Linked DNA regions of Homo sapiens. The protein of the gene in region 1 interacts with the protein of each later gene in a pairwise test. Each region holds a gene or a part of one and is shown on either strand. Other genes may lie near its edges.

The links.
Region 2: the proteins of LRSAM1 (region 1) and RXRG interact in a two-hybrid assay, tested with the Homo sapiens proteins (one large-scale study listed by IntAct).
Region 3: the proteins of LRSAM1 (region 1) and FAM178B interact in a two-hybrid assay, tested with the Homo sapiens proteins (one large-scale study listed by BioGRID and IntAct).

What each region holds. Positions count from the first base shown.
Region 1 is NC_000009.12:127,500,010-127,503,509, forward strand, and holds the end of LRSAM1 (E3 ubiquitin-protein ligase LRSAM1), read left to right. Parts: intron 1-1,000; coding exon 1,001-1,134; intron 1,135-2,764; coding exon 2,765-2,890; 3' UTR 2,891-3,490; downstream 3,491-3,500.
Region 2 is NC_000001.11:165,414,038-165,417,760, reverse strand, and holds part of RXRG (retinoic acid receptor RXR-gamma), read left to right. Parts: intron 1-540; coding exon 541-720; intron 721-3,723. UniProt on the Homo sapiens protein: Receptor for retinoic acid. Retinoic acid receptors bind as heterodimers to their target response elements in response to their ligands, all-trans or 9-cis retinoic acid, and regulate gene expression in various biological processes.
Region 3 is NC_000002.12:96,969,491-96,973,213, reverse strand, and holds part of FAM178B (protein FAM178B), read left to right. Parts: intron 1-607; coding exon 608-676; intron 677-891; coding exon 892-1,313; intron 1,314-2,436; coding exon 2,437-2,498; intron 2,499-3,723.

The DNA.
Region 1 (3,500 bases):
GGAAGGGAACGAGGGATAGAGTCAAGGAAGTGGGTGGCTCACGTTGCATGATAGAAAAAGAGACTTAGCAGCCGGGCACGTTGGCTCACGCCTGTAATCCCAGCGCTCTGGGAGGCTGAGGTGGGCAGATCACCTGAAGTCAAAAGCTTGAGACCAGCCTGGCCAACATGGTGAAACCCCACCTCTACTAAAGATACAAAAATTAGCCTGTCGTGATAGTGGGCACCTGTAATCCCAGCTACTCGGGAGGCTGAGGAAGGAGAATTGCTTGAACCTGGGAGGCAGAGGTTGCAGTGAGCCGAGATCGCGCCACTGAACTCCAGCCTGGGTGACAGAGCGAGACTGTCTCAAAAAAAAAAAAAAAAAGAGACTTAGCATTTTGTAAGGGCTGCTTCTGATGTCTTAGCAGGGGATGCTGACTCCAGGGCAGAGCAGCCAGCATGCTGGGGACTCTGTGGGGCTGGGGGCAGGGGAACAGCCTTGCGGGGGGCCTCTCATTCTGCTCCCCTGGGTCACCTGATGGGCAGCAGCCCATCCTGTCTCCTGGGCAACCAGGTGGAGAAGCCAAGAGCTGGCCCTTCACTGAGAGCTCCTGCCCCAGGGATCTGCAGCTGCATCACCAGATGGCCACATGGCCCTGGGTTGAGTGACTCCCCGTCTCTGAGCCTCAAATGTCTCATCTCTGAAAGTGCCAAGCCCTACTTGCAGGGTGGCTATGAAGCGTCCCGGGGACATTAGAGATCAGAGGACCCACTTAACAAGCGCTGCGGCCATCCCTGCAGAGAGAGACTTCACTCCCATTCTGCAGATGGGAAATGAGGCTCAGAGAAGAGAAGAAGAGAGTGTGTGGCAAGGAGAGCACTTCCCTCAGATCTGAGAGCAGAGGCTCCCCCACCCTCCAGCTCACTCACCATGGGGATGGGCAGGGCCACAATGAGCCCCCAGGGGTTAGGGTCAGCGGAGATGACCCTGGCTCAGTCTGTCTGTCTGGTCCCCACAGAGCTGAAACCACCAATGGGTGAGGTCGTCACCCCTACGGCCCCCCAGGAGCCTCCTGAGTCTGTGAGGCCATCCGCTCCCCCTGCAGAGCTGGAGGTGCAGGCCTCAGAGTGTGTCGTGTGCCTGGAACGGGAGGTAAGTCCGGGGCCCTCCCCACCCGCCTGCCCTGCCTGTGGCCACCCTCCTCAAATTCTGCAGGTACAGGGTTGTCTCTGAACGTGTTTTCTCCAGTTCTCTAAGTAGACTGTGCTCATCTAGAAAGAAGGCAGGAAATAAAGATGACCCCTGGTCCCATGACCCAAATATGAGCTGCGCTCACATCATTTTCCGGACCTTTTTCTTTTTGTTCCTACTTAATAAATACATTAGGAAAAAATTTCCCAAATCATGAAATATCAACAACATGATTTACCCTGCAGAGGCTTTAGAAAATCATCTTTTGGCCAGGCATGGTGGCTCACGCCTGTAATCCCAGCACTTTTGGAGGCCAAGGCAGGTGGATCACCTGAGGTCAGGAGTTTGAGGCCAGCCTGGCCAACATGGTAAAACTCCATCTCTACTAAAAATACAAAAATCAGCCAGGCGTGGTGGTGGGCGCCTGTAAGCCCAGATACTTGGGAGGCTGAGGCAGGAGAATCGCTTGAACCCGGGAGGCAGAGATTGCAGTGAGCCAAGATCCCACCACTGCACTCCAGCCTGGCAGACAGATCGAGATTCCATCTCAAAAAAAAGAAAAAATCATCTTTTAAAAATTCATTAACACTTACTCTAAAAATTACACAGAGCAGTGAATGAAATACAAATCCTCCTTTGCCTCCACTGAGGGATCCTACTTAGAAAAGCAGCCATGTTTGCAGTTTGATGATTCCAGGGTCTCCCGTTGACCTGACTCATGCCATGATATGGATGGACCTATTGGTTCCAAATATAATCCCTGTTCTGGGGCCCTTGGCATTCCAGACAGCTTTGAGCGGAGCTTGGATCAGTTCCTGAAAGCAGGAGATGCTGAGGCAAAGTGTGGTCCTGAGTCAGTGGCTGCTGCTCCGGGTTGGGATTGTTTGTAGACTGAGGAGTTCAGGGCCTGGGCAAGTGCATCAACAAGAAAGAAGCCTGAACACCCTGCGTGCCCTCCGGCAGGGGCCGGCGGAATAGGCCTCCGTCGCCTGTCCAGAGCGCAGGAATATAATCCCCAGTTTTATTTAAGAAAGAATCAGTTGGGGCATTTATATGGGTATTTATATTTTTTACAAACTATAGAGAAATAGACAGCAAACTGCTAACAGAAGGCCTAGGTTACCTGTTTCGGCCGTGCCTGTTCTGTTTCTGTGGTGGTCAAATGCCCGAAGGCCCCACTATCAGGCGTTTATGGTAAAGATGCTAAAGAATAATGAAGGGGGCCGGCATGGTGGCTCACGCCTGTAATCCCAGCACTTTGGGAGGCCGAGGCGGGCAGATCACTTGGGGTCAGGAGTTCGAGACTAGCCTGACCAACATGGTGAAACCCCATCTCTACTAAAAATACAAAAAATTTAGCCAGGTATGGTGGTGCACGCCTGTAGTCCCAGCTACTTGGGAGGCTGAGGCAGGAGAATCACTTAAACCCGGGAGGCTGAGGTTGCAGTGAGCTGAGATCCCACCACTGCACTCCAGCCTGGGCAACAGAGTGAGACTCTGTCTCAAAAAAAAAAAAAAAAAAAAAAAAGACGGGCCTGGGACTCCTGGAACCCGGTAGGGCCAGCCACATGCTCCCGCTCTCCCTCCCCAGGCCCAGATGATCTTCCTCAACTGTGGCCACGTCTGCTGCTGCCAGCAGTGCTGCCAGCCACTGCGCACCTGCCCGCTGTGCCGCCAGGACATCGCCCAGCGCCTCCGCATCTACCACAGCAGCTGAGTGCTGCCCGCCCACCTGGGCCTGGTCCTAGCCCTGCCTCGGCCACTGTGAGCCCCGGGCTCCTGCTCAGCCTTGTGCCAGCCAGACTCGTATGAGGCTCCCCCCTGCCCTGGGCCCCTTCCCCACTGCCCAGGAGCCCCCATCCTAAGCTCCAAGCATGTCTGGGCCAGGCAGAGGTGCTCCTCATCCATGACACCACCAGTCTGAATGGTCCTGGGGGCTGGGGCTGGAGAGGCCGCTGCACCACCACCCGAGCCTGGGAGCCAGCGTCCCAGCCTAATCACGGATCTGCTGCCTCCCAGCTGTCTTGACTGAAGGCCACCGCCCCTGCAGGAGCTTGGGTCCTCATCTGGGGGCCATGCACAGGCCCGTCCCACCCTGCATGTGGGAAGGGAGCAGGAGGGCCTGGCTGGGTGAGGGGAGGCCTTCCTGGGAAGGCGTGTGGTGCAGGCCTGTGCTCACAGTGGCACCAGCAACCCTGGGTCTCCCTCTCTGCTGCTCCCCAGAACCCCGGGGCCCTCCTGCTCTCCACAACTGTCCCTCCTTACCCCATGTAGCTCGATCCGAAGCAGGAGTGTCAATAAACCTGTCTTCAGTGCGCTTCTGGCCT
Region 2 (3,723 bases), on another chromosome or scaffold:
GATCAAACAGCAATTAATTTCCTCAACAGTCAATAGCACTTAACAATTCATAACTCAGAATTCTGTTCATAGTTTATGGTAAAGGATAATAAATTTAAATAGGTTTCCTAAGAACTTGGGTCTCAATTATAATTAGTTAAGTTGGGGTTCTTTTCCTGCTAGGTAATACGTGACAAGCATATATATTTTTATTTATTATTTACACTAATGTTTTGAATGGAGGCAGAACATTTGCTTAACTAAACCCAAGAGTTGCCTTTATAAAATAAATATAAAGAAAGCCTTAGCTTTAGGAATTTTCTAATAATTCTCTCTGGAATTAGTAATGCAGAGGAAAGACACGAGGACAAGTGTATTTGCTGTGTCTTAGTTTGGTTCCTGTGATCAAGCCTGCATTCTCTGCTAGTGATTATTTGCTTTCTGTCCCAATGCCCAAGTGATATGCCTGTTTCTCTGGGGGAAGAGCCAAGAGGTTCTTTTGAATGAAAGATCCAAATAAACACAAGAACAATCTATGGAATGTTCTTTTCTTCTAACCAGGAAAGCACTACGGGGTATACAGTTGTGAAGGCTGCAAAGGGTTCTTCAAGAGGACGATAAGGAAGGACCTCATCTACACGTGTCGGGATAATAAAGACTGCCTCATTGACAAGCGTCAGCGCAACCGCTGCCAGTACTGTCGCTATCAGAAGTGCCTTGTCATGGGCATGAAGAGGGAAGGTGAGACACATTCAGTTCCAAAACTCGTGTCCGGAGAGAGGCATTTCCTAGGCAAGGGGACATTCAACTGCAATACACGAGAAGTCATGGTGCCCAAAGTCATCCTAATCTCCACTTCAAATTTCTTTCCCACAGGGCTCTAAAGAGAAGTCTGAATAGGAAATTAGGATGACTTTGGGTACTCGTGTATTGCAATTGAATGTACCCTTTTCCTAGGAAGTGTGTCTCTCCAGAGCAGAGAGGGCAAGAGGCATCTTCCTCCTCCACATTTACCCATCCTCTTCTGGAGCCCAGATGGTGATCCCCAAACTGGACCGTCTCCTTTTTTCTTCCAATAACCAGGCAGCAAGTCTCAGAGCCAAGGTTTCAGGGTCCTTATGATCTGCTCTACCAATGGATCGTCAGACTGACCTTCAGGGTGGAGGTGACTTTTCTCCTCTAATCCTAGGTCTCTCTCTGGGGCAAACTGTAGGTTTCATTTCACTCACTGAGTTTTTTTTACCTGGGTCTGCTATCAAATCTTTGATATTGGTATATTCCATCATCTTTTGGCATTACTGGCATTACACAGGTTTGACAGACCTAACCTTCCCATTCAGAGAGACCACCACTGTGTGTTGAAACCATCACATCTTTTAATTTATAGTGTGGTTTAGCTGGGTATTCTAGTATGAGAGAAAAAAACCTCAGAAGGTGCTTTCTGTCCCGTTAGTAGACAGAAAAGACTTTCCATTAAGTATCACAGATAAATTGAAGTGGGCAGTTAATTAACTAGTGAGCTCAAGCAGGGACATGGGGATAGTGGTGAATCTTAATAGATTTTAGAGTAAGAAGGTCCTGCCTCTCTTTAGGAAATAAGAACAAGGAGTTCAGTCAGGCCCAGCACGCTCCTCATTCTTGAGGAACTTCTTTTCTGTGAGAAGAGGGCATCTTACTGAAAGGGTCAATGAAGAGGGGCTCTTTGTGTCCCTGCTAAAAGTGAATGTCACCCATGAGCAAACAAATTCTTGTAATCTTAACATGTCAAGATGCTAGAGGTGGCCTTACAGAGTCACCTAATCAACTGTAACCATCCGCCAGATGAGAAAACAGGCTCACAGAGATGAACGGAGTTTCCTGAGGTGCCAAAGGCAGTTAATGAACTGACCCCAGGTCTCTGACTTTCAGATCAGCCCTAGTCTGTGTCTCCTTCCCTGCCAGGTTGTGAAGGAACTGAAGATGGCCCTCGCTGTGACATTTAACAGCAACCTCAAAAGTGAGAGACCCAAATCTCAGCTCCTGAAAATCTGCCCCACACCCCAGCCTGTTCCTCACACAGTCTTCCCCTTTCAGGAAATGGCCACTTATTTTCCAGTTGCTCAGAACAAAAACCATTGACTCCCCTCTTTTTTCACACACCACATGTAGCGGGTGAGGAAGTCTTGTCTCTTCCTCAAACTATGCCCAGAATCTTTCCATGTCTCACTACTTTTACCACTAACCCCCCAATCTAAGCTAACTGTATATTTTGTAGTGATCTACACAGCATCCTAAGACATCTCCCTGCTTCCATCTTTGTCCTCCTACAGTCTCTTCTTAGCACAGTAGCCAGAGGGAGGCTTTGAACAAGTAGATTGGGTCAAGGTGTTCCTTCAGCAGAATCCTCCAATGTCTTTCCTTCTCACCCAGAAAAAAAGGCAAAAATCTTTGTCATGACTTAAGGTTGTACATAGTCTGGATGCCCTGTTGTCTCTCAGCCTCAGCCTTCCTGGCCTCTTTGGTGATCCTCAACTATACCAGAGATGCACCCACCTCAGGGCCTTTGCACTTGCTGTCTGTCTAGAATGATTTTTTTTTCAGGTATCTGATGGCTCACTTTTTCTCATCCTTCGTATCTTTACCCAATTCTCACTTTCTTGGTAAAGCCTTGCCTGGTTATATCATCTAAAATTGCACCAGCCACCCCCAACCCTTCCTTGTCTCTTTTACACAGTAGTTATCATGATCTAACACTTGTACTTATCTTGTTTACTGTCTGTATCCATGAAGGCGGGGGCTTCATCTGCTTTTTTCCCCCACTGCTTTATCACCAGTGACTAATACATTGTAGCCATTTAATAAATTGTTGAATGAATAGTTTAAACTGAATGCTGAAATCAGAAGTTTTAGAAGTGCAGGAGCTCCTAAAAATGACTCATTCATTTATTCATTGAGTATTAGCTGAGTGCCTACTCTGTGCTTACGTCATACTTGCTGTGGCAGTGGGATCAATGATGTTACAGATTGGAGCATGCGATATGAAATACCTGCTGGTGAAGAACATCTTTTTTCCACCAGGATAGAATTGGATACTCCTTGGAGCTTCCCCCACCATGATTATCAAAATGAAACTAATGACTACAAGTATTTCTCCCATTAACAAGAGTCCAGTGACTGCAGGGTCATTTTTTTCCCTCCTAAAACACTTGAGATAAGTTTCCAATTGACTTGGAACAGTAACAGTTTTCATTAAGCACATGATATTGAATTAAAGGAAAGTGAATGGTCTCAGTCAGAGAAACCATCATTTCTATTTCTCTAGAGTTATTCTAATCCATCTCTGAAAATGCAGGCTGAATATCCCCAGCTCAGTTAGGGACAGAGTGGTCAATAGGCCAAATGTTGGGAACTGTGGTTCGTTAAATGTTTTTAAAAAAGGAAGGAAAACAGGGACATGTGAACTGTAAGAGACACTTCTATGGTTTGGGTACTTTAATAGAAAGTTGGACCCAATTTTTGCTCCTGCATTTTTTAAAAGAATGTGGAGAAACAGAAAGAATAGTGAAAAGCTGAGTAGTAAAAATTAGGAGAGGGAAAGGAGCTCTTAGGGAACTTTCTGAAGAGATTGGCACCATTTACCCTGACAAAGGGAAGGCAAAGAAGTGAATCAATTCCTCCGCTGACTATATAAGGGGGCGCATTTCAAAAGGCTACTGGATAGCCTGTCCACCGCCATCATTTCTGGTCTTGATTTATAGAATTTGG
Region 3 (3,723 bases), on another chromosome or scaffold:
TTTTTTTGAAATGGAGTCTCACTCTGTTGCCAGGCTGGCATGCAGTGGCACCATCTTGGGTCACTGCAACCTCTACCTCCCAGGTTCAAGCAATTCTCCTGCCTCAGCCTCCCGAGTAGCTGAGACTAAGGCACACGCCGCCACGCCCGGCTAATTTTTTTTATTTTTATTTTACTAGAGACGGGTTTCACCATGTTGCCCAGGCTGGGCTTGACCTCCTGACCTCAGGTGATCCGTCCACCTTGGCGCATGTCTGTAATCCCAGCTACTTGGGAGGCTGAGGCAGGAGAATCGCTTGAACCCAGGAGGCAGAGGTTGCAGTGAGCCAAGATCACGCCGCTGCACTCCAGCCTGGGCGAGAGAGTGAGACTCCGTCTAAAAAAAGAAAATTGATATCCTCACATTTGCCCATCATGTCCTTGAAATGAGAAGTCAGATTGTTCTCTCCATCTCAGCAACTTGACCTTGGTGGGATCAGAAGGCCAGTCCTCAGGGCGGACCCTCTTGGGCACAGTGGGCCCAGGCCCTCCTCTGTGGGAATCACGGGGTTTAGAACCTTTAGCTTTCTTCTGGAGGTTCACCTGCCCTCACAGGCGCTTCCTTCCAGGACAGATGTCCCACGGCTTGCAGATGGCTGGGCCCCAGGAGACGGTGCTAGCCCTTCCTCTGAGAGAAGGTAGGCGTCTCTCACCTGCACAGGTAAATCCCCACTGAGGTTTGGGGGCGAGAGGAAGTGGAGAGCCCATGGCTGAAGGATTTCCCTTGCATCCTTCCCACAGCAACCCCAAGTTGTTCTCTCACCCATTTGCTGCTCTCCTTACCCAGTGTGGCTTGACGTCTGGGACAGTGGCAGGTGGGCAGAGGGACCACAGTATTCTGTCCTGTCTGCAGGGGTGCAGGCTGCCGCCACCGTGCCCATCCTCCTGTACAACCTGGAGGATGGCTTGTCAGACCATCCCCTGGACCAGGGGCCCCGCTGCCCTGCCCGGCGGCCCTGCAGCCCTGCCTCGGCTCCAGCTCCCACATCGCCAAAGAAGCCCAAGATACAGGCACCTGGGGAAACGTTTCCCACTGACTGGAGCCCCCCGCCCGTGGAATTCCTCAACCCGAGGGTGCTGCAGGCCAGTCGGGAGGCCCCGGCCCAGAGGTGGGTGGGTGTGGTGGGCCCCCAGGGCCTGAGGAGACTGGCTGGTGAGCTGCCCGAGGAGTTGGAGCAGGAACACCTGGACTTGGACCCGAAGAGGGGCCTGGCCTTGCCAGAGAAGCTGTTCTGGAACACGTCAGGCCTGAGCCAGCAGGCTGCGGCCCCAGAGGTGAGCCTGTGTCCACCCTTGGCCTCTTCTCCTTGGCTACCCATCTTTAGCCACCCTTTTACAGTCACCCCAGGCCACCCTCTCCTGAGCCACGCCCCAGCTGCTCTTCCTCGGACACTTCACCTTGACCATCCCTGCTCAGCCCTTGGGCCCTCATGGCTGGAAGCGCAGGCCCCCAAGGCCAGGATGCACCTCGCCCTGTGTCTCCACCAGTAACTCCTGCTGACAAATGGCTTTGGGTGGCAACAAATTCGATGCCACTTCATGGGGCCCCTTGAGGCTTTCATGGCTGAGGTTAGGGTTATGGCCCCGGAGCAAGGAGGGATCTCAGAGCTGAGGTCTGGGCTTGGTTGTCTGTAGAGACTCAAGCTGACTCTGGTCCAGTGGATCGGGAGTCCTAAATGGAACTTCAATGATGAACTTCAAATTGGGAGTAAGCTCCTGCTGCTAGGTAGACTGTGGGACATTTACAGGCTGTGGATCGAGAACAGTTATTCTAAGAATGGGTTTCAGCTGTTTGTAACAGCCTGCGAGAGAGAGACAGACAGACAGACAGACAGAGACACAAGGGAGAGGGGGACAGAGGGAAGGAGAGAGAGAGGGAGGTGGGAGAGAGGGAAGGAGGGGGAGAAGGAGAGAGAGGGAGGGAGGGAGAGGAGAGGAGGAGAGGGCAATGGGGAGGGGCACAGTGGGAAAGGGAGCAGATAGGGAGGGGGAGAGAAGCTCTTTGGCTTTGATAGGGAATGATGTCAGATCATTGAGATTGAAAAGTGTGTGGTGCAGGATAGAGCCTGGTGCAGGATAAGCTGTGTGGTGTGGTGTGCTGGCGCCTGTGATGTGGTGTTGTTTGCTGTCTCTGTGTGAAGTGTCTCTGAAAGCACATGAGGAATGCCTATCCCATGGGCACCTGTGGGGAGGGAACAGGTGGCTGGGGGTGGGGATGGGGGCAGGGAGACATTTTACCCTGCGCCTTTATACTTTTTGATTTTTTAATCCTGTAAACATAGTATCTTTTCAGAAAAGCAAACAAAATAAATAAAGGGCTTAATTTAGTTTTTTTTCTTTTTTCTCCTCTATCTTTGTACTTCTCTGTCGTCCTCATTCCCATGTCCTGTTTCTCCAGTTTTCCTGGGGGGGCTCAGGAAGCTACTTCAACAACCTGGACTACTTACTGCAGGAGAAGAGGTGAGCACAGGGCGTGGCCTGTCATGGGGTGCTTATTTCTGCAGGGTTGGCAGCAGTCCCGGGACTCACTGCAGAGTCTGGTCGGAGTACAGCGGCCTCCCACCCAGACTCAGCCTGCCCTGTGTGCTCTGATCAGTAACAGGCAGGTCGCCAGGGCAGGGGGTGGCATCACCAAGGCAGAGAGCCCCCAGACTCCCACCACGAACAGAGCCCTCCTTCTGGGTCCCCTCTCCACCTTGGCTCCATTCTGCCCAACTCCTGCCAGTTTGAGGGTGTCTCCTCCCACTCAAGGGTTATGTGAGAGGGAAGTGGAAAAGCAGACTGTTTTGTGGCTGAGGGTTACAGCCTGGCTGTGGCTGGAGGGTCATGCTGGGCAGACGGGACTTCCTAACATTTCTGCCGCTGCTTTCTACCCCAGTGTGCAGGCACGCGTTGCCCATTTTCCCATCCTCTCTGAGTTTCACACCTGCCTTCTCCCAGCATATTAGCTTCTAACTAGCTCTCTCCCTGTCTGCCATAAGTAGTTTCCACGGACCGCTGAAGGCAACAGTCACGTCTGATGAGATTGGAAATCCCTAGGGAGGTGCAGGTGGCTGGGGACAGACAGGGGTCGTCTTCATGGGGGCATGCTCTTTGGTGGCATGTGAGCAGGTTGTTCACACTTCCTGAGTCTTTGTCCTCTCCCGTTGTTGTGTTGTGTTGTTTTTGTTCAGTGCATGTCCATTGTGTTTGCAGAAGTTAAGTGTGGGCGGGGGCGATGCCACCCTGGAACACCCAGCTCTCCTGGTGGGAGGACTGATACCCACTCTTTCCACCCTCCTCAAAGTTCCCAGCCCTGTTGGCAGAGAGCTCCTCATGCACTGGGATGAATTATTCTTTGGTCCATTCTTGGCCCTCTGGCCCGCCCTGGAGTCATCTCATCTGCCTCTGCTGTGCAGCCCCTCTGGGCTCCTCCGACCCGGGAACTTGTGTTGTTCAGCTCCTTCACCTGAGTGATTTTCTCCCATTAGATTGTACGTTAGGGAAGGGACCATGCCTATATATTTCCACGGTGCCCAGCATGGTGATGTACATTTAGTAGACGCTTGAAAATATTGGCAGGAAAATGAGCAGCTGGGGCCTCCTCGTGACTGCTTGTCGGTGTGCCTGGCATTGGGAGGGTCCTGCTCTGTGCTAGTCAGCTCGGGCTGCTGTAACAGGATGGCACACACTGGGGGCTTAAACA